Homo sapiens: one gene and its partners. The protein of the gene in region 3 purifies or fractionates together with the protein of the main gene of each other region. This does not show direct contact. Each region holds a gene or a part of one and is shown on either strand. Other genes may lie near its edges.

Evidence for each region. Proteins that work in one complex are often made in the same cells at the same time.
Region 1: the proteins of HIF1A (region 3) and STAT3 purify together in Homo sapiens (affinity purification with western blotting; 4 studies listed by BioGRID). This does not show direct contact.
Region 2: the proteins of HIF1A (region 3) and CUL2 purify together in Homo sapiens (affinity purification with western blotting; 7 studies listed by BioGRID and IntAct, with this or other methods). This does not show direct contact.

The regions. Positions count from the first base shown.
Region 1 is NC_000017.11:42,329,443-42,336,442, reverse strand, and holds part of STAT3 (signal transducer and activator of transcription 3), read left to right. Parts: intron 1-2,393; coding exon 2,394-2,552; intron 2,553-2,677; coding exon 2,678-2,770; intron 2,771-4,911; coding exon 4,912-4,971; intron 4,972-6,651; coding exon of another isoform or gene 6,652-6,666; coding exon 6,667-6,696; intron 6,697-6,795; coding exon 6,796-6,889; intron 6,890-6,985; coding exon 6,986-7,000. UniProt on the Homo sapiens protein: Signal transducer and transcription activator that mediates cellular responses to interleukins, KITLG/SCF, LEP and other growth factors. Once activated, recruits coactivators, such as NCOA1 or MED1, to the promoter region of the target gene.
Region 2 is NC_000010.11:35,087,342-35,094,436, reverse strand, and holds the start of CUL2 (cullin-2), read left to right. Parts: upstream 1-4,095; 5' UTR 4,096-4,258; intron 4,259-4,435; exon of another isoform or gene 4,436-4,541; intron 4,542-7,095.
Region 3 is NC_000014.9:61,698,202-61,705,765, forward strand, and holds part of HIF1A (hypoxia-inducible factor 1-alpha), read left to right. Parts: intron 1-7,564.

The sequences.
Region 1 (7,000 bases), on a different chromosome or scaffold from region 3:
AATTTTTTATAGAGACAGGGTCTTACTTTGTTGCCTGGGCTGGTCTCAAATTCCTGGGCTCAAGGGATCATCCCACTTCGGCCTCTCAAAAGCTCTGGAATTATAGATGTGAGCTGCCGTGCCCAGCCCAGGATCTTCCTTTATATGCTTTTCTGTAATTTGCACTTTTACCTTCATCCAGCATATCTTACTGCAACCCTTCCTGTGCAAGGCCCTATAGTGAGCATGTTGCACCAGCTTGCCTTAGGAGAAACTTGAGATACAGAGCCTGCACTGGAAATTTAGCGCAACTCTACATGAGAATGCCTGTCTATTCATATCCTCACTAACCCTGAGTGTTGTTAATTTACTGAAAGCAGTTTTAAATGCTTCCTGACCAGGGAACGAAGAAGCTTAAGTTCTGGGAATGGGAGGATAGAAGTGCCAGAAAAGAGCTCAGGAGTTCAGAAATCCCTGCAGCGGTCCCCCTCCCTCTCCTTTCACTTTCTGTCTTTCTGGTCTTTTGGTCTTTGTTACACTAGTGATAAACCATCAAAGAATGATGGAATGATGCTAACTTCTCTCTTTTTTTAATTTTTTTGAGACAGAGTCTCACTCTGTCACCCAGGTTAGAGTGCAGTGGCATGATCTTGGCTTACTGCAACCTCCTCCTCCCAGGTTCAAGCGATTCTTAGTCACAACCTTCCAAGTAGCTGGGATTACAGGCCCATGCCACCATGCCTGGCTATTTTTTTGTATTTTAGTAGATCGACCTGCCTCGGCCTCTCAAATTTTTGGGATTACAGGTGTCAGCCACTGCACCTGGCCTAATATCTCTATTCTTGGAGATAGATTTAATGAGCTTTTTCTCCCTCTCTATTCACTTATTCCTTGTGCATGTTATCAATATTTTGAAACATAATGTCATGTCCTTTGATCAGTTGAAGGCTGACATTGAAAAGGCTTATGGGGATTGGGTGTTGTGGCTCACGCCTGTAAATCCCAATGCTTTGGGAGGCAGAGTCGGGAGGATCACTTGAACCCAGGAGTTTGAGACCAGCCTGGGCAACAAAGTGAGATCCCATCCCTACAAAAATTTAAAAAACTAGACATGTGCCATTACACTTCAGCCTGGGTGACAGAGTGAGACTCCATCTCAAAAAACTAAACTAAACTAAACAGGCATGGTGGCACACACCTATAGTTCTAGCTACTCAGGAAGCTGAGGTAGGAGGATCACTCATGTCCAGGAGTTGGAGGAGGCAGTGAGCTATGATCATGCCATTGCACTGCACTAGGCCACAGAGTGGGACCCTGTCTCAAAAAAAAAAAAAGAAAGAAAGAAAAGAAAGGGCTCATGTAGTTCAAGCCCTTCTCTTCATGCAAGGGGATGCTAAGGCCCATGATGGTGAAGGGCCTGGCAAAGCTTGCACAGATAGTGTGTGACAGAGCTGGCTCAAACCCATCTTTGGGAGCTGTCTAATCTCTTTTTCTGAGTCTTTATGTTCATAGACAAGTTAGGATGAGTAAAGTAAGTGCTAAATTCCATATTTCGTGTTCTGCATATCTGGGCTCAGATGCTTGTCATTTTCCAGTGATAACTCCATCAATGCCTCCTAGTGGTATAAATTTTAATACTTCTTGTGTGCCCAGCCCCCTCTTAGAAATTTGAGATTTTAGGAAGGGACTAGTAATAAAAGGTAAAATAAATTATTTTCTGGCCAGGCATGGTGGCTCACACCTGTAATGCCAGTACTTCGGGAGGTCGAGGCAGATGGATCACCTGAGGTCAGGAGTTCAAGACCAGCCTGGCCAACAAGGCAAAATCCCATCTCTACTAAAAATGCAAAAATTATCCGGGAGTGGTGGTGGGTGCCTGTAATCCCAGCTACTTGGGAGGCTGAGGCAGGAGAATCACTTGAACTTGGGAGGCGGAGGTTGCAGTGAGCTGAGACTGTGCCACTGCACTCCAGCCTGGGCAACAGAGTAAGACTCTATCTCAAAAAAAAAAAAAAAAAAAAAAAGGCCAGGCGCAGTGGCTTACACCTGTAATCTCTCAGGAGGCTCAGGCAGGAGAATCACTTGAACCCGGGAAATGGAGGTTGCAGTGAGCCGAGATTGCACCACTGCACTCCAGCTCAAAAAATAAATAAATAAATAAATTATTTTCTTTTTTTATTTATTTTTTCAGCATCCACCCAACATGGTGAAAAATTCCTCTTTTCTTAATGTCACTGAACTGTAAACTTAAGATGAAAAATTGTAAATTTCATGCTATATATATTTCACCACAATAAAAAAATTCCTTGTTCTTATTGTAGTGGTCTCCATGTCTTCAGTATTTCCTTCCCCTTCTCCATCTCACCTGTATACATTCACTTTGGTAATTAGCATCTTTCTTAATTTATTGGCAGGATAACGTCATTAGCAGAATCTCAACTTCAGACCCGTCAACAAATTAAGAAACTGGAGGAGTTGCAGCAAAAAGTTTCCTACAAAGGGGACCCCATTGTACAGCACCGGCCGATGCTGGAGGAGAGAATCGTGGAGCTGTTTAGAAACTTAATGAAAAGGTAATTTAGCATCCTTGTCCCTTTCCCTCATCTAAAAAATACCTAAAGACTCACGTGGTAGAGTGAGAGGCGGGCTGACTTCTGGTCATGGCCGTGGCGCGTGAGCCCATCTTCTCTTTCCTCAGTGCCTTTGTGGTGGAGCGGCAGCCCTGCATGCCCATGCATCCTGACCGGCCCCTCGTCATCAAGACCGGCGTCCAGTTCACTACTAAAGTCAGGTAGGCCATGCCACTTCCATTTCCAGTAGAGATTTTACTGAGGGACACTGTTAGGGTGAGGGTAGAGTTGGTGGCCAGGGTCATTCTTTCCAGGTGTGGTGTCACAGGCAGTACACTGTTGCGGGGTTGAAATTTGTTGCCATACTATCTGCTTGCTCTCTGATTCTGATGTCAAAAGCAAAAGAGCAGTCATCTTTTTGAAGGTACCTGGGCATATTCCTATGATTGTAGACCTGGAGTCTCAGGCCACAGCTTCTCCTTCTGCCCAAGGGACAAAATAATGTCATCTATTTTCTGTTCTTTGAGGCTACTCTTCCCTGTGGATTTTAAGGGAAAGAGTAAGGCTTAGTGATGGGGAAGCTGAGAGGCCCCAGGGCAGGTGGGTGGTGGGCCTGTAGGGTGAGGTGTTACTTTCACACTCAAGTCAGAACAGGTGTGCTGGGGTTTTGACCTTCTGCAGCAAAATTTCCCTCCTCAGAAACTTAGTATGGTGTTCGGTTTCAGGATTAATAGAACAAAATGCCAGCTGCACAGCATGTGTTCCTGTAATATTTTTCATTATATGGCTTTGATTATCCTTTTGTGAATCTCTCACAACTTTAAGTTGTTAGTTCTTAGATGTTTTCTCAGTACCTTTGGCTTGAAGGAGTGATACTCATCTTTTGTTTTTGTTTGAGACAGGGTCTCACTCTCACCCAGGCTGGTGTGCAGTGGCATGATCTCAGCTCACTGCAACCTCCATCTCCCAGGTTCAAGTGATTCTTGTGCCTCAGCCTCCTGAGTAACTGGGAATAGAGGTGCGTGCCACCACACCCGGCTAATTTTTTTTTTTTTGAGACAGAGTCTCGCTCTTTCGGCCAGGCCAGAGTGCGTGTTGCAATCTCAACTCACTGCAACCTCCACCTCCCAGGTTCAAGCGATTCTCCTGCCTTAGCCTCCCTGAGTAGCTGGACCGGCACACTCCACCATGCCCGGCTAATTTTTGTATTTTTAGTAGAGACAGGGTTTCTCCATGTTGGCCAGGCTGGTCTCAAAACTCCTGACCTCAGTAATCCACCCACCCCGGCCTCCAAAAGTGCTGGGATTACAGATGTGAGCCACCACGCTCGGCCTTTTTTTTTTTTTTTTTTTTTTTGAGATGGAGTCTTTCTCTATCACCCAGGCTAGAGTGCTGAGGTGTGATCTCGGATCACTGCAGCCTCTGCCTCCTGGGTTCAAGTGATTCTCCTGCCTCAGCCTCCCAAGTAGCTGGGATTACAGGTACCTGCCACCATGCCCGGCTGATTTTTGTATTTTTAGTAGAGACGGGGTTTCACCATCTTGGCCAGGCTGGTCTCGAACTCCTGACCTTGTGATCCACCTGCCTTGGCCTCCCAAAGTGCTGGGATTACAGGTGTGAGTCACCGCACCCAGCCCTATTTTAATTTTTTTAAAGAGAGAGATAGGGGCCAGGCACGGTGGCTCTCGCCTGTAATCCCAGCACTTTGGGAGGCCAAGGTGGGTGGATCACCTGAGGTCGGGAGTTCGAGACCATCCTGACCAACATGGAGAAACTCTGTCTCTACTAAAAATACAAAATTAGCTGAGCGTGGTGGCGCGCGCCTGTAATCCCAGCTACTTGAGAGGCTGAGGCAGGAGAATCACTTGAACCCAGGAGGCGGAGGTTGCGGTGAACGGAGATTGCGCCATTGCACTCCAGCCTGGGTAACGAGAGAAACTGTCTCAAAAAAAAAAAAAGAGAAAGAGAGATAGGATCTCGCTCTGTCATCTAGGCTAGAGTGCAGTGGCATGATCATAGATCACTGTAGCCTTGAACTCCTGGGCACAAGTGATCCTCTTGCCTCAGCCTCCCGAGTAACTGCGACTACAGGTACATGCTACCACACCCCGCTAATTTTTAAATTTTTTATAGATGTGGGCTCTCACTTTGTTGCCCAGACTGTTATGGAACTCCTGGGCTCAAGGGATCCTCCCAGCTTGGCCTCCCACAGTGCTGAGATTATAGATGTGAGCCTGTAATTATAGACAGCTTGGCCTATTTACCTGTTGGAAATGAAGAATTATGAATTTTACATTTCTTCAAGAAAAGGTTATGGGAGAGTTACTGACTTTTTTTCCTTGGATTTTTTCTTTTTAAATAGGTTGCTGGTCAAATTCCCTGAGTTGAATTATCAGCTTAAAATTAAAGTGTGCATTGACAAGTAAGTACTCCTATCTTAGCTCTGTTTTTCAAATGAGGAATAGAAAAATGAGAACTTTGACAGACATCATTTGAACTAGAGACTCTGTCTTTATTCAGAGATCTTCATTTTGTGGACAAAAGTTTTCAAAAGCCTTGGGGTGCATTGTCATTTACGTGTCTGAACAAAGCCACAAAGCTGGGGGTACAGATTTGATTTGTGGTTGCTATTGTGACAACCAGTCCCTCTTTTCCTTGTTTAGTTTTTTACTTGTACATGTCATTCATGCATATTATATATAAGACTGAGATCATGTGTTAATTAACGACTGGGATACGTTCTGCAAAATGTATCATTAGGCAATTTTGTTGTGCAAATGTTGTAGAGTATATAGTCCTTACACAAACCTGGGTGGCAGAACCTACTGCACACCTACGCTATGTGGCAGAGCCTACTGGTCGTAGGCTGTAAACCTGTACAGTATGTTACTGTGCTGAATACCGTAGGCAATTGTAACACATCTCAATGAAGTAGGAATTTTTCAGCTCCATGATAATCTTATGGGACCACCATCATATATGCATTTTGTTGTTGACCGAAACGTCGTTATATATTCTTTCCATACATAGCATGTGGAAAGAATAGATCTCTTTTTTTTAATTGTTCCACACTTTACCATATAATGGAATACGCAAAATTTCACAATACCTTTCAGGATGTAAAATACATATACCCTTTGACGACATTAGAAAAGAGAAAATGTGGGCCGGGCGCGGTGGCTCATGCCTGTAATCCCAGCACTTTGGGAGGCCGAGGCGGGCGGATCACGAGGTCAGGAGATCGAGACCATCCTGGGTAACACGGTGAAACCCCGTCTCTACTAAAAATACAAAAAAACTAGCTGGGCGTGGTGGCGGGCACCTGTAGTCCCAGCTACTCAGGAGGCTGAGGCAGGAGAATGGCATGAACCTGGGAGGTGGAGTTTGCAGTGAGCCAAGATCACACCACTGCACTCCAGCCTGGGCGACAGAGACTCCATCTCAAAAAAAAAAAAAAAGAAAAGAAAAGAGAAAATGTGGCTGGGCGCGGTGGCTCACGCCTGTAATCTCAGCACTTTGGGAGGCTGAGGTGGGCAGATCACCTGAGGTCGAGAGTTCGAAACCAGCCCGACCAACATGGAGAAACCTTGTCTCTACTAAAAATACAAAATTAGCCAGGTGTGTTGGCGCATGCCCGTAATCCCAGCTACACGGGAGGCTGAGGCAGGAGAATCACTTGAACTCAGGAGGTGGAGGTTGTGGTGAGCCGAGATCACACCATTGCACTCCAGCCTGGGCAACAAGAGCGAAACTATCTCAAAAAAAAAAAAAGAAAAAAGAAAAGATAAAATGCATTCTTATTTTTAGTTGATGTAATTATGTGGAAATTTCATGAGGATGCACTGGAAAATAATGAAATAAGGGAGTTGACGAAGGTGGTAGGTTTAATAAGTACATATGCAATATGAAACATAGGTTCCCCTTCCTATGGGGAGGCAACCAACTGTGCCTGCTACGCAGAGGTGTTATGTTGCGCTGATCAACTGTAACTGAATAGTTTAAAGAAATGCCCAGGAGCACAGAGGTTTTTTCATGACAGTAAATAACAGGTGGTCAAAGTAGGCTTTTTGAAGAAACACAGAGCCTATTTTATTAACAACAGTCTGTGTTCTTACAGAGACTCTGGGGACGTTGCAGCTCTCAGAGGGTAAGTTCAGCCTAGAGGCTTCCTTTTGTTCCGTTTAACCTAACTTCATCCTCCGGCTACTTGGTCACCTACATAGTTGATTGTTCCCCTGTGATTCAGATCCCGGAAATTTAACATTCTGGGCACAAACACAAAAGTGATGAACATGGAAGAATCCAACAACGGCAGCCTCTCTGCAGAATTCAAACACTTGGTATGTGGGAGGAGCTCCCCTTCACAAAGGGCCTCTGGCTGCCGGAGAGGGCTAGGGAGAGCCTCACAGGACACCTGCCTTTTTCTTTTCTTACAGACCCTGAGGGAGCAG
Region 2 (7,095 bases), on a different chromosome or scaffold from region 3:
ATGGTGAAACCCCATCTCTACTAAAAATACAAAATTAGCTGGGCGTGGTGGCACGTGCTTGTAATCTCAGCTACTCGGGAGGCTGAGGCAGGAGAATAGCTTGAACCTGGGAGGCGGAGGTTGCAGTGAGCCAAGATCGCACCATTGCACTCCAGCCTGGGCAACAAGAGCGAAACTCCATCTCAAAAAAAAAAAAAATTATCGAGGACTTAGAAGAGCTTATGTTCATGTGGGTTATATCTATTGTATTATGCCATTCTTGTATTGTTATAATGAAATACCTGAGACTGTGTAATTGATGAAATAAAGAGGTTTAATTGGCTCATGGTTCTGCAGGCTGTACAAGAAGCACGATCCTGGCATCTGCTCAGTGTCTAGGGAGGCCTCAGGAAACTATCTATCTATAAATAGTTATTGTATTAGAAATTTAAAGGATAAAAATTTTTAAATTACTGATTAATTTTAAAAATAATAAACCAAACACATTTAACATAAATTGCATGCTTTTATGAAAAATAACCATATTTTCCAAAATAAAAAAAATTTGATCAGAGGAAAAGGATTGCTTTTGTATTTTTGCAACTCTCTAAATATTTGATTTAATAGAAGATAGCTAGGTTCTCTATGGTTGAAATATATGAAGAAACTCAGGCCTTTGAAAGAAAATTAAATAGTCTTTTTGGATAATTATGGATATTCTTCTTTGATACTATAGTGAAATTCAACAAGTGGTAATTTCTTCTTCTTTTCTTTTCTTTTTTTTTTTTTTTTTTTTTTGAGAGAAGGTCTGCCTTTATTGCCCAGGCTGGGTGCAGTATGGCGTGATCTTGGCTCACTGCAACATCTGCCTCCCAGGTTCAAGTGATTCTCCCACCTCAGCCTCCCAAGAAGCTGTGACTACCAGCACACACCACCATGCCTGGCTAAATTTTGTATTTTTTGTAGAGATGGGGTTTTGCTATATTGTCCAGGCTGATCTCAAATTCCTACACTCAAGAGATCTGCCCACCTCAGCCTCCCAAAGTGCTGGGAGGCATGAGCCACCAAGTCTGTCAATTGTTCTTTCAAGTAAAAATGGCCTTCCATTGTAATGGCCAGATGGGTTCTTCTTGGCTACTGCACAGACAAAATTCACCGAGACCAAGGTATTGCAGTAGAGAAAGTGTTTAATTGACCCAAGGCCAGTCACATAGGAGAACTGGAGTTATCACTCAAATCAGTCTCCCCCTGGGTTGGAGGTTGGGGTTTTTATGGACAATTTGGTGAGCAGGGGACTAGAGAATGGGTTCTGCTGATGGGTTGGGGATGGAATCATAGGGGTGTGGAAAACAGTCCTTGAGTGCTGAGCCTGCCTCTGGGTGGGGCCATAGGACCAGTTCTGAGTCATGAGTCACGAGTCCAGGTGGGGTCAGTCTGAAAAATATCTCAAAAAGCAATCTAAAGTTGTACAATACTGATGTTATTTATAGGAGCAACTGGGGAAGTCACAAATCTTGTGACCTCTGGCCACATGACCCCTGAGCAGTAAGGGAGTATATTAATAGAAATATGCCTACACTTTAGCAAAGTTCACACCCCTCCCATAATCCTATTCTTGCTGCTTTTCATTAGTCTTCCAAAGGTGGTTTTTCATCCCTAAGCAAGAGCAGGGGTAGTTTTAGGGAGGAACTTAGCTTTCAAGTTAAACCATAAACTAACTTCCTCCCCAAATTAAGTTGGCCTATGCCCAGGAATGACCAGGAACACCTTGGAGGTCAGAAGCAAGATTAAATCAATGAGGTCAGATTCCTCTTACTATCATGTTTTGCAAAGGCAGTTTCACCATGAAAAATGCAGGTAGTTCAGCCTGTAAGTCAACCACACAAGTGCTTTTCTTCAAGACAGCCATCCCACTTTGGCATGCAGAAGTGCATGTGTACTTCCCATTTCTTCACACAGAGTATTAGAAAGACTTGTATTCAAGGGCCAAAATTTAATAAAATTAATGCTTCCGCTTCATCCAGGATATTCCTAAATCAATAGCCTTAAAAACTGGGAATGTATGGCAGTGAAGAATACAGCGATCCAATGACCACCCGGACAGGTTGGTGGCACTGTCTTGATCCCTGCTAAGGCATCAATAGTGTCCGTATTCCTTTGCACCATCAGTACAAAAACAAACTCAGTCAAAAAGACAGAGGAGGCCAGGCATGGTGGCTCACTCCTGTAATCCCAGAACTTTTGGGAGGCTGAGGTGGGCAGATCGCTTGAGCTCAGGAGTTCCAGAGGAGCCTGGGCAACATAGTGAGACCCCATGTCTACCAAAAATACAAAAATTAGCTGGGTGTGGTGGCGCACGCGCCTGTAGTCACAGCTGCTTCGGAAACTGAGATGGTACACTCGCTTGAGCCCAGGAGTTTGAGGCCGCAGTGAGCTATGATCAGGCCACTGCACTCCTGCACTCCAGCCTCAGCGACAGAGGGAGACCCTGTGTCAAAAACAAAAACAAAACAAAACAAAAAGCAGGGGGGGCCTGACACGGTGGCTCAGGCCTGTAATCCTAGCACTTTGGGAGGCTGAGGTGGGTGGATTGCCTGAGCTCAGGAGTTCAAGACCAGCCTGGGCAATGTGGTGACATGGTGAAACCCTGTCTCTACAAAATACAAAAAATTAGCCGGGTGTGGTGGCGGGCTTCTGTAATACCAGCTACTCGGGAAGCTGAGACAGGAGAATCACTTGAACCCGGGAGGTGCAGGTTGCAGTGAGCTGAGATTGTGCCGCCACTGCATTCCAGCCTGGGTGACAGAGCAAGACTCTGTATCCAAAAAAAAAAAGGACCAGACATATTGCATTGTTAACAAACTAGTTGTTAACCTTATGACCTCTGTAAAGGTCTCAGGGATTTCCAGAGGTCTGGGGACCACACTTTGAGAATCACTAGATTAAAAGGGGGAAAACATGGGAGGAAAAAAAGGTCACATAATGGAAACATACTGTTGGATTGAATTTCGTATATAAAAACCCTTTACTGAAATAAAGAGTAGAGACTTCAAGTACCAAGAGAAGCAGATTAGAAGAGGAGGAAGGCTCTAGGGACTGATCAGGTCTGGAGGCAGGGTTTTAAATGGGCCTTGAAGGGTTCGTGCAGTTTGGAAGGAAGGGATGGGAGGGAAAAGCTTGCTGAATCGTATAAATGAACAAGACCCTGATGGTGAGCTCTTGAGGATATGAAAGGCAAAAAGCACTAAGGCCGGGCTTTTGTTCCTCTGTGGCCCTGCATATATGAGGAGGTGATGAGTAATTCTATATTTTTATCAGCTTTACCGTTTAAAACTCCAAGGGAGGAAAACCCTTCAAACTGATAGGCTTGGGGCTTGGTGAAGGTGGGGTATTAGTGAAAAAGATGTGAAGTTTCTTTATCGAAAATACATGTATGTCCAAGAAATTCTCTGTAGATAAAAACTAACAAGAAAAAGAGTTTGTCAGAGAGGAAAAGTAGTTTTGCTAATTTATTTTTGATCATTTGCAAAGCCCATGGAAGTGTGTGGCAAGAGGATTGTGGTGTCTTAGGATATTCACATAGGTCTGAAACAAGGAAAACATACTTCTGTTGAAAGCACCATTCCAACATATTGTTATTAGCAGTCCCTGAACTAACGGGTAGTGGGTGGGTACTGTGTCCATCAGCTCAGCGAACCGCAATTGCCTCATTGACAGCAAGCCCAGCAAGGAATCACTTGGAATATTAATTTCCGTGGCCTTTCGCAATCACACGAAGCTTGGCTCCCTGCGCTTGCCGTAACGCGGCCTGTACCATTGCTTTCCGGGTGGCGGGGGGGATTTGGCAGCAGCGGAAGAAGGAGACCGGAGGGTGTGTGTTGGGCAAAGCCGGAGGCAGAGGAGGACGATTGTTTTACGGATCCCGTGATCGGCCCGTCCTTCTCCCCTTTCCCCCCCTCCCTACCGCCCCTGTCCCGCCGGGGAGCGGCGGCGGCCTTGGACTTTGCTGTCTTTCCTCGCGGAGACAGGTGAGTGTCGGCGCGCGGGCTCCCCGGGCTTCGCTCCCCACCCCCCGCGTCTCCGGGGCCGGTGGCGGCGGCCGGCCGGGGAGGCGGCCTCGGCGCACAGTAATGGCAGCGCTGTGAGCAGGGGAACGCGAGCTGACAGCCGCCGCCGCCGCCGCCTCCGCCCACCTTCCTCGCCGGGGCTTCGTCTTTCACTCCTTCGGGCTGCCTCCCCCTCCCCTTGTCCCCTGCCCCTTGCCCTGCTTCTGCAGAAGGTAACCCCGCTGAGGGTCGGGGAGCCGGGCTGCAGGCGCCGGGAAACTTCCCTTCCCGGTTAATGGGTGGCGGGGCTGGGGCGGAGGAGAGGAGTTGGGGGCGACGAGGTGTGGGGAGAGGGATGAAAGGGGGAGGCCCGGGAAGATGGTATCCTGTAAGTGACCTCGGCTCCCCAGAGCGCTGACCCGTAAGCCCTGCCACCCCCTGGACTGGATCCCGGGCCTCCCCAACCCGATCTTGGCCGCCTCTCCCGCGGCCCCATTTTCCTTCGAAGGAGGGAAGGTGAGAGTGCGTGTATTCTTCTACATATTTACGTGCTCACACGAATACACAACTCTGTGTGTTTGTGTGTGTGTGTGGGGGGGGGCATCTCATGCATCCTTACCCCGAGTGTTTTCACTTTTGTTTCCGCAGACTGCAAAGATTGATAGCTTTGGGGAGGAGTATCCTACGTGCATGCTAGACTTCTTGTCTCAACCCTTAGGGTCTGGTGAAATAAGATCCTCACACGCTTTCTAGCACTTGCTTACCCTCTAGAGAGTCTGGACCATTCCCTACCATTACGTGCATGCAAATAAAACATCTGTGAATTGCAGACTGTTATTAATGTTAAGTCCACATCTTTGCCCCATGGATTAATATTAACAGTTGAAGGCCAGTACCCTGGGCGTTTAAATTTTGAAGATAAGATGCAAAATATTAACGTTCGCTATAGATTGTGACTGTTCAACATAAACGTCTTTGAACTAGACCTGGCCAAGCCTACCTTCGTAGTAAAGTATCGGAAATAATCACTTTGATCTGATTGACAACTGACTACATAATAATCGCTTAAAAACATTCAAAACACTGTTGCCTACCCTTTAGAATCTTACATTCCTTTTCAAGACAGACACATGAACAAATGAGCTATACTTTGCTTCTTTTGCCCTTATACAGTATCTGGAAGATCCTTCCAAAAGAGTCGCGTGAGATAAGAGAAGTACACAGTTTTTTTGTTTTGAGATGGAGTTTTGCTCTTGTCACCCAGGCTGGAGTGCAGTGGTGCGATCTCGGCTCACTGCAACCTCCGCCTCCCGGGTTCAAGCAATTCTTCTGCCTTAGCCTTCCATGTAGCTGGGATTACTGGCATGCGCCACCATGCCCGGCTAATTTTGTATTTTTAGTGGAGATGGGGTTTCACCATGTTGGCCAGGCTGGTCTTGAACTCCTGACCTCAGGTGATTCGCCTGCTTAGGCCTCCCAAAGTGCTGGGATTACAGGCCTGAGCTACTGCGCCCAGCCCACAGTGTTTTGAATTACTTGTTTTTTTCAATTGCTGTTTATGAGTTGGGGGAACATTTCTACAATGTGCATGCACATAGCGTGGGAAAAATTCCTTTTCAATTGCTTTTTGAGTATTTGGATGTTCTCCTGCATCTGAAATACTCTTCATTCTCCATCCTTGCTGGTGGCTTTCAGTGTTCTATAAATGTGAAGATTATCCATGTCTTTTACCCTCACCAGTTTGTCACTAGATTAAACGTTATGGACCTTCTTTAAAGTCATTTTTGCGTTGTCTGGCAGTTGACAGATATTTATTAAGCACCTGGTTTATTTGTCAAGCAGGGCTGCAGGCATTAAGGTTACAAGGGTAAACAAGACACATTACATTTCTTTTTTTTTTTTTTTTTTTTTTGAGGCGGAGTCTCGCTCTGTCACCAGGCTGAAGTGCGGTGGCACGATCTGGGCTCACTGCAACCTCCCAGTTCAAGCAATTCTCCTGCCTCAGCCTCCTGAGTAGCTGGCACTACAGGCGCACGTCACCACGCCCAGCTAATTTTTGTATTTTTAGTAGAGACTGGGTTTCAACATGTTGGCCAGGGTGGTCTTGATCTCTTGACCTCATGATCCGCCCTCCTCAGCCTCCCAGAGTGCTGGGATTATAGGCGTGAGCCACCACACCTGTCCAACCCATTAAATTTCTATCCTCTTGGAGTGTCACTTCTGGCTTGGGATGGAGAGACAGACAGTATATAAGAAATAATCTCAGAGAATAAGTGCTGTGTGGGAAATAAGGTAAGGAGTTGTGGTAGTGATTGGGAGATTACTTCAGATACTGTAACCAGAAAAGAACTTCCTGAGGTGAAGTTTGAAATTCTGAGGGAACAGTTTTCCTATTTTAGGGAGGAACAAATGGAAAAACCCTGAGGTGCTATCAAACTTGGATTGAACAAACTGAAATTGGCTTAAGGTGGACCCTAGTAAGAGATTAAAGGTGGGTCCTAGCCAGGGGCTGGATCATGTTGGCTTTGTTCTTAGATACATTAAAAGGCTTTTGGAACTCTTCTAAACTGAGAGGTCTGATTGAGAATCAGACTGTTGATTGGAGAAGAGAGACACAAGGAGACCAGTGAGAAGAGCAGTGGCTGTGGAGGGTTAAGGTACAAGTGAAAACGTTTTGAGATTTATTTTGGAGTTGAAGATACTTATTGAAATTGTCATGTTTTGGATGAGCATGCAGTTGGGATGGGTCAATTCTGGGTTTTTGGCTTCTGCTGGAGGATGATGATGCTGTGTACTGAGATGAAGAAGAGGTTGGGGGAAGCAGGCTGTTGTATGGGATGGGGTTGGATTGGACATGTTAAGTTGGATTTCGTTGTTCAAGTGGAGGTGAGAAGTAGGTGATTGGAAATAAGTGTGGAACTTAGAGGTTAAGGAGTGATTCAGCCATCCAACGAGGGCTTCTCAAGCACCAGCTTTAAACCAGATGTGTGGATATAGTGGTTAAAAAATTTCTGGCTTCATGGAACTTAAGTTCTAGTGAAGAGAGGAAAATGGATATGGAGAGTCATCA
Region 3 (7,564 bases):
CATTAAAAGTCAAGAAGCTCTCTCATTTATTAGCAAACTTTTCTCCTTATGATTCTATTTTGATTGTCCTTTTGTTTGAGGAAGCAGCATATGGTGGTTAAGAGCATAGGATCTAGAGGCAGATACCTCTGAGTTAAGGGTCCCAGCCCTTCACTTGTGAGCTTGAGCAAGTTACTGAATGCCTCTGAGCCTCTTTCCTCCTTTTGAAATGATGATAAGAATAGCAGCCATCTGAGCAGTTATTGTAAAGGTTAAATGAGATAATGCTTGTGAAGCACTTAGCCCATTGCAGGAGTCTTGATGACACTGTGTACTTGAAAATAGATGTTACCTGTTAAAATTCTTGTTTAAACTTCCACAACTCTTAAAACTCTTTTTTGCTAGTCCTTCCAGCTGTTTCCTTTAGTTTCTTTTCTGTGTCTTCATGCATCTTTTCTATCTCCTGAAAGTGAAAAGACTAACATTGGATCCAGAGCTTGAAAAGCGTTTTTTTCCTGTTACAATGGGCAAAAGAGTACATCCTTGGGTTATATTGGCACCTAGTATCAGTTATTTTTCTTGAGCATCTGATCTGCTCTCTACTCTAGTGGAGGCCTCCTGCTTCACAATTGCTCACCCCTGTGTTTTCTCCCCAAATAGAATACTGAGTTTACTCTGGACTCTAGAGTCAAACATACACAGTATTCTAGTCTTACTGTTCATTTAAGCAAGATATGTGCAAGACACTGCATTCTTAGTACTGGCAGTAAGTTAAAACATTTTTCGTCTTGATGCCAAAGTTTAGACAATTTTATAAAAATTAACCTTTGTAAAAGATAATGAGTTGATAAAATATTCTCAGTAAAGCAGCTACGTGGTAGAAAAACTGTCCTTTGCTTATGAGTTTCTCCAGAGTTAAGACCATTGGGTTCCATCTGAAGGCAAGACTTCAAGCTTGTCTTACTGGTCTGTTTTGTGGCTCAATTTGTATGAAGTCTATGCACTCTTCCACACGTGTGTATTTACTGAACTATCGAGTTATTTTAGACTGAGAAAGTATTGGAGTTCATTCCTACGGTCCACTGCAGAGCACCTTGTGCAGTTTGGAGAATGTCAACTTTTCTACCTGTTAACTTCCATTGTCTTTACTTTTAACGCCATTGTCTGTGACTCTAATGGTGTCACGGCTCAGGGTTTAGATTTTGTGGTTACATTCTATTCTTGTATGTCAAGAGTGGTGTATAGAAAGCTGAGGGGGATTATTTAGTCTCTTGACTGATTTTTTTTTTTTTTCTGAAGAACTCAGTTTATTATGTTTGGTGGTGAAATAAAAATTGATGTGCATGGATGTTAAAGATTTGGGTTAAATTGTGTGTTCATAGATGCCTTCTCTTAGTATATAATTTTTTAAATTTAGATACTTAAAATACTGTATCCCTTTATCTAAGATTAACATAAGTCTGTTTCTTAACCAGGATAAAAAAATCTAAATTTAAATGTGATGTTGGATGAGTTTCCAATCAAGAAATTGATTTTTTAAACTTTGTGACTAGTTATCCAGTGGGTGGATTTTACCCAGTGTGTGTATGTGTTTTCTGCTTAACTCTGGAAGGTTAGAAAGAGAATTTGAAACTAAGACAAGCCAAGCTTCTTGTTGCTCAGTATTTTTGGTAAAAATATGGTCAGATTGTTTAAATTAACTATAGGCTTTGGAATTTTAAAAATAATTATATCTCTTGGTCTCTTGACACATCAAGAATTAACTGTTTTGTATATGCGTTGAGTATTAATGTTCATGTTTTCTGCAGTAGAAATTTATAAACCCTTATTTATTTGCCAGACATGATCCCTTTAGAGAAATCTAGTATCTAAAACCTGAATTTTTAAAACAAAATTTAAAATTTTTGTTTCATAAAAACAAAAATGTGATTACCTCATGGCTTTTTTCTTATAGCTTTTGATTGTTTTTTAAAATCGTAGTTCAAAAACATTAACCTAAAATTTACCATCTTAACCATTTCTAAGTACTGTTCAGTAGTGTTAAGTATATTCACATTGTGCCACTAACTTCCAGAACTTTTTCATCTTGCAAAGCTGAAATCTTACCCATTAAACAACTCCCAATTTCCCCCTCTCCTCAGCCTCTGGCAACCACCATTTTACTTTCTGTTTCTGCAAATTTAACTACTCTAGATGCCTCATATAAATAGAATTATAGGGTTTTAATATTTTTGTGATGGGCTTATTTCACTTTGTGTAATGTCCTCAAGGTTCATCCATGTTGTAGCATGTGTCAGAATTTCCTTCCTTTTTGAGTCTGAGCAATATTCCATTATATGTTCCATATTTTGTTTCTCCATTCATCCAGCAACGGACACTTGGGTTGCTTCCACATCTTGGTTATTGTGCTGCTCTGAACATGAGTCTGCAAATCTCTCTTTGAAGCTTTCACTTTTTTTGGATACATATCCAGAAGAGGGATGCTGGATCATATGGTAACCCTTTTTAATTTTCAAGGAACCACCATATTGTTTTCTATAGCAGTTGCACCAGTTTACATTCCCACCAACAGTGCACAAGGGTTCCTATTTCTCCACATCCTTCTAAACACTTGTTTTCTTTCTTTCCTTCCTTCTCTTCTCTTTCTTTCTTAGCCATCTAATGTGGCAAAGTGGTAGCCATCTAATATGTTGAAGTGATTGTTTTTAAGGGCTTGTTTGTGGATAATTAACCAGCTGAAAGCTAACTACAGTTTGCCAGTGGAAGCTTTAACTGAAAGGAGAGTAAGTACCTCTAAAAGGAGAATTCAATTTTTCTAGTGACTTAGATTTGTTATGCCAGTACTTTTTCACAGAAACACTTTTTGGGTAAAATAGTGTACACCTGTTCTATTGTTGATAAAGCCCAATTTAATTAGGAAATTTGTTCTCTAAGATTTAAAACAATAATTGAAATAATGTATTTTTATTAAAAACTGTTCCCAAGATGTTAGCTTTTAGCTGTTCTGGTGATCTCAACTGTTATTTATGAGTGTTTCTTTATTTTAAAATTTCACCTTAACCGGTTACAGTTTTAACCATAAAGATTATTTCAACATATGATTTTGAAAATTTATTATCTTGTAAATGGGAAAATGTAGTGATGGAACATAGTTTACTGTATGTAGTTCTTCACTTGTTTGAAAAGTCACAATATATTTAGGCAAATTAATTTAAAAGTGTCTAGTATTTAATATTGCAATTTTCACTCATTAAGGACAGGTCCCCCGTGTTTCCCCCTTTTTTTTTTCCAAGTAGTTTGGGAGGATTTGTTTTTCCAGCTGAAAAATACTATGGTTAAAAATAAGGTTTAAAGGCGAAAGTTGAAGTCTTTGAGGGTTGGGATACGTTTCTGTTCTTAAGAGTCTTGTAAATTCAGATGCTAAGCAAATTTCTTTAAAATGATTTCTACCCTCCCCCTTTCCATTATAAAACTGGATATGTTTCAGTGGACCAAATCCCAAGTAGGCTGAATTTGAAATTTGTGGGCTGGGCGCGGTGGCTCATGCTTGTAATCCCAGTACTTTGGGATGCCGAGGTGGGTGGATCACCTGAGGTCAGGAGTTCGAGACCAGCCTGGCCAACATGGTGAAACCCCATCTCTACTAAAAATACCAAAATTAGCCAGGCGTGGTGGCGGGTGCCTGTAATCCCAGCTACTTAGGAGGCTGAGGCAGGAGAATTGCTTGAACCTGGGAGGCGGAGGTTGCGGTGAGCCAAGATCGCCCCATTGCACTCCAGCCTGGGTGACAGAGCAAGACTGTGTTTCAAAAAAATTAAAAAAGAAATCTGTGGTGTGAATACTGGTACGTGGTGTACACAGTGAGCTCTTAATAAGTATTTGAATTAACAAATGAGACAATGATTGAATAATTGGATGAACAAAGAGAATGCAGGTTTTTAAAAGGTTTCTTTAGAAATATTGTCGGCCCGGCACGGTGGCTCCTGCCTGTAATCCCACCATTTTGGGAGGCCGGGGCAGGTGAATCACCTGAGGTCAGGAGTTCAAGACAAGCCTGACCAACTTGGAGAAACCCCGTCTCTACTAAAAATACAAAAAAAAAAAAAAAAAAATAGCAGGATGTGGTGGCACATGCCTGTAATCCCAGCTACTCGGAGGCTGAGGCAGGAGAATCGCTTGAACCTGGGAAGCAGAGGTTGCAGTGAGCCAAGATCGCGCCACTGCACTCCAGCCTGATGACAGTGTGAGATGCTGTCTCCAAAAAAAAAAAAAAAAAATTAAAAAGAATGTTTTAATTCTTTAGTTCCCTGTCTGAGATTCACTGATTGGTAAGAAGAAAGTTAAAGAATCTCCTTTGACTTTTTTTGATATAGATATTTAAATTCTATTACTTTATAGTAAGGTTGGGGTTTATTTTCTTTGCTTTATAATAGAAGAGCATTGATTATTCTCTTTGCTTTATAATAGAATACCATTTAAATAGGAGTTCCCTGAGTGTGTTTACAATCATTTGATCTGGCTAAACTATTTTAATGTTAATGAAATTTTAAAATTTTGGAGGAAAAAATTTAAAAACTACACAGGTGCACAAAGAAATAAAAATCACCTGCTTTTTCACTATGTAGAGACCATTGTCTACTATTTCTCAATTCTGTGTTACATCTGTATGTTAATAACTGTAGGATTAGGGACTGAGTACTGTTTTTAACCTGCTTTTAAAAAATTTACATCTACATTTTTTCCCATCTAAATAGTGAGGAAGAGTATCAGAATTTTGTAGGCTTGTGGTGATGGTTAAATTAGATAATATTAATGTTGGGTACTTAACATAATATATGGCTCTTAATACTCTCCAGATTTCAGATATAGTCTGTTTTACCATTACTGCCTTTTTATCAAACCTATTCTCAAAAAAGTGAGAAAAGTGCTGAGATTACAGGCGTGAGCCACCATGCCCGGCCTCATGGTTCTTTCTTAATAATAAATTAGAAGAAGTAGAATTACAGGGTCAAAAAGTATCCATTTTAAAGCTTTCAATGTAATTGCCTGTTTATCTTCTAGAAAGTTTGACCTAGTTGTATTTTAGAGTGTCATTTTCTTGAACTTTATCATCATTAAAGTTTTAAATTTGGAACACTGGCAATTTGATAAGTATATTAGGATTCTTCTTATTGCAAGTAGCAAAATACAACTCAATCTAGTTTAAGAGGGGAAAATGTAGTCATTGGCTAACACAATCTAATTTTGGTTTAAGAGACAAATCTAGAGTCTCAAATGATCTCAGAGTGTAATAATCCCTGACTTTTGTCTTGATATTACTTGGCTTGTATACCTTTGCTCTATTTGCATGCTGGCCTTACTCTGCCACTGACAGGCTGTCTGTATGGTGTGGAAGAGGACGGCTAGCATCCCCATACCTGCATCCATACAGTTTGTAATATAAAAAAAAAAAAAGTAAAAAAAACTCCCTCTCTCTTCTAGTGTCTATATATCAGTTTCCTAGAAGAAAACGTTTTGCCCTACTTGGCCATGTGAATGGAGTTCCCTGATTACATGAGTCAAATATGTCTTATTGTAGCATATTTGATGGTCTTCTTGTAGAATATTATCTTACTATACACAGAACTCTTGACCAGTAATTAATGGGCCATGAGTTTTTGTTGCAAGTCATTTGAATTCATATTCTATAGTTTTCTACCAAGTGTAGTCATTCTGCAAGCTGTTCTTGTCATGACTTTTGGGAAGTTGAGTATTTCTTCTATGGGTTAGGGTTTTCATCTCAAGAAAAAGATGATCCTTTTCTCTACTAAATATGTGTTAAGATCACACATTTTTCTAGATCGTTTAGCTCTACTGTGTGATCTTACACAAATTGCTTTATTGGGATGATAAGAATAATTGCCTTATAGGATTGTTATGAGAATGAAATGATACATCAACTCATATGAAACACTCAGAACAGCTCTTGGCACAAAGTAAGGGCTTAATTAAGTAGAAACTATCCATATATTCATAATATTATAGTATTGGTTAAGTTGTTTTCAACATTGTTTAGAATCGCTCAAGCCTTCTTTGTGATAATCTGACGAAGGCTATTCACCACCAGTGAGTAAATAATAGTGGCAGAATAGTTACTGATGCTTTTCCTTTACTTGGTTTTTTTTCCATAAACATCTGGCCTTTGCAGACTAAATACTGGTTTATGTATAGACATGTTATTCTAAAATAATTTTCCATAGTGGTAATACTAAAGGAAGAAAAATGTTCTCAAAGCTATTTATTTGGGATGTTAAAGGAGGGGGAAATTAAGAAAGCCTACATTTCCATGTCCTTTGTGTCCAGAATCTCATTAAATGTCTTTTAACTTGTTAGCAGAGGAAAGTTGGATATTGCCTGCCTTTGTAGCTAACATAGTTAAAATATTTAAATGGTTATAGTGTCAAACCAGTAGTCAAAGCCTTCACTGTGAATGGATGAAGGGATATTTTCTTGAATAATTTAAGTTGACTTATTTCAGTGGTTCAAAAAATTTCTTCAACGCTTAACCATGACTCAGGCACCTAACTATTATACTATGTCCTGTAACAGATTGTTGTGCATTCATTTATTCAACAGGTATTTGTGCAGCTAATTTATTGAGTACAGCATTGAATCGTTGATGGCTTAGGCCACAGTTGAACATTCCATTTTTTATGTTCATTCATTCATTCATAGCATATTCCATTTTTAAATTTTCAGTTCATTGCACTTTAAAGTTTGAGGTTCTTGCGAAGTACAGACTTTTGGGTTTAAGTTTTGTTATTTAATGTCAACCACCACAGGCGCATTGGCCAGTCTGCTTTTAGAATTTTCAGACATACATACACAAAACATTCTCACAAGACAATCTACTTATTTTCTTTTTTATTCCTGTGTTTCTTAACACAGGATTAATGTTCAGATCTCTTTTGGAGCAAAATAATCCTCTGAATTTTTGAGATGTACCCAGTGACCTCAGTCTGAGTATGTATACTGCATTAAAAAATGTAACCTTGTTCCTTTTAGTGGTCATTTGGTAACAGTTTGATCATAAACAAATGCAGCCTCAAACACAGAAGGCTTGAGGCAAGTATACAGAACTATGGAGAGATCATTTAGATGATGTAGAATATGCCTTTTCTTTTTTTACAATGCCACCAAAATGAAAACACGGTTTTAAAAATTCTCATAGAGTGTAACTTCAACACTGCTTTAACTCTATTAAACAAAGCACTGCCATGTTGTAATTCCTATTTATTACTCTCTGGAGTTGTATAAATTACCAAATCCGCCTTTTGTTTGATATCCTTTTCAAATATCTGAGGGTAGCTATCATGTTTCTTCCTTCTATTCTTAAAAAATAGTCCCAAATTTCTTGAATCTTTTAATTTAAAAATTATATATTGAGCATCTGATTTGTGGAAAGGCATAGGCCATATTAAAAATGGGGCTTCATATTAAAATGGGGAAAAGGGTGGAGATTCTCAGGTGGAATCTGAGATCTGCCACACACTAATAGTGTTACCTAACCCTTTTTAAAGACAAAGAAACAGGATCAGAAGGTCAC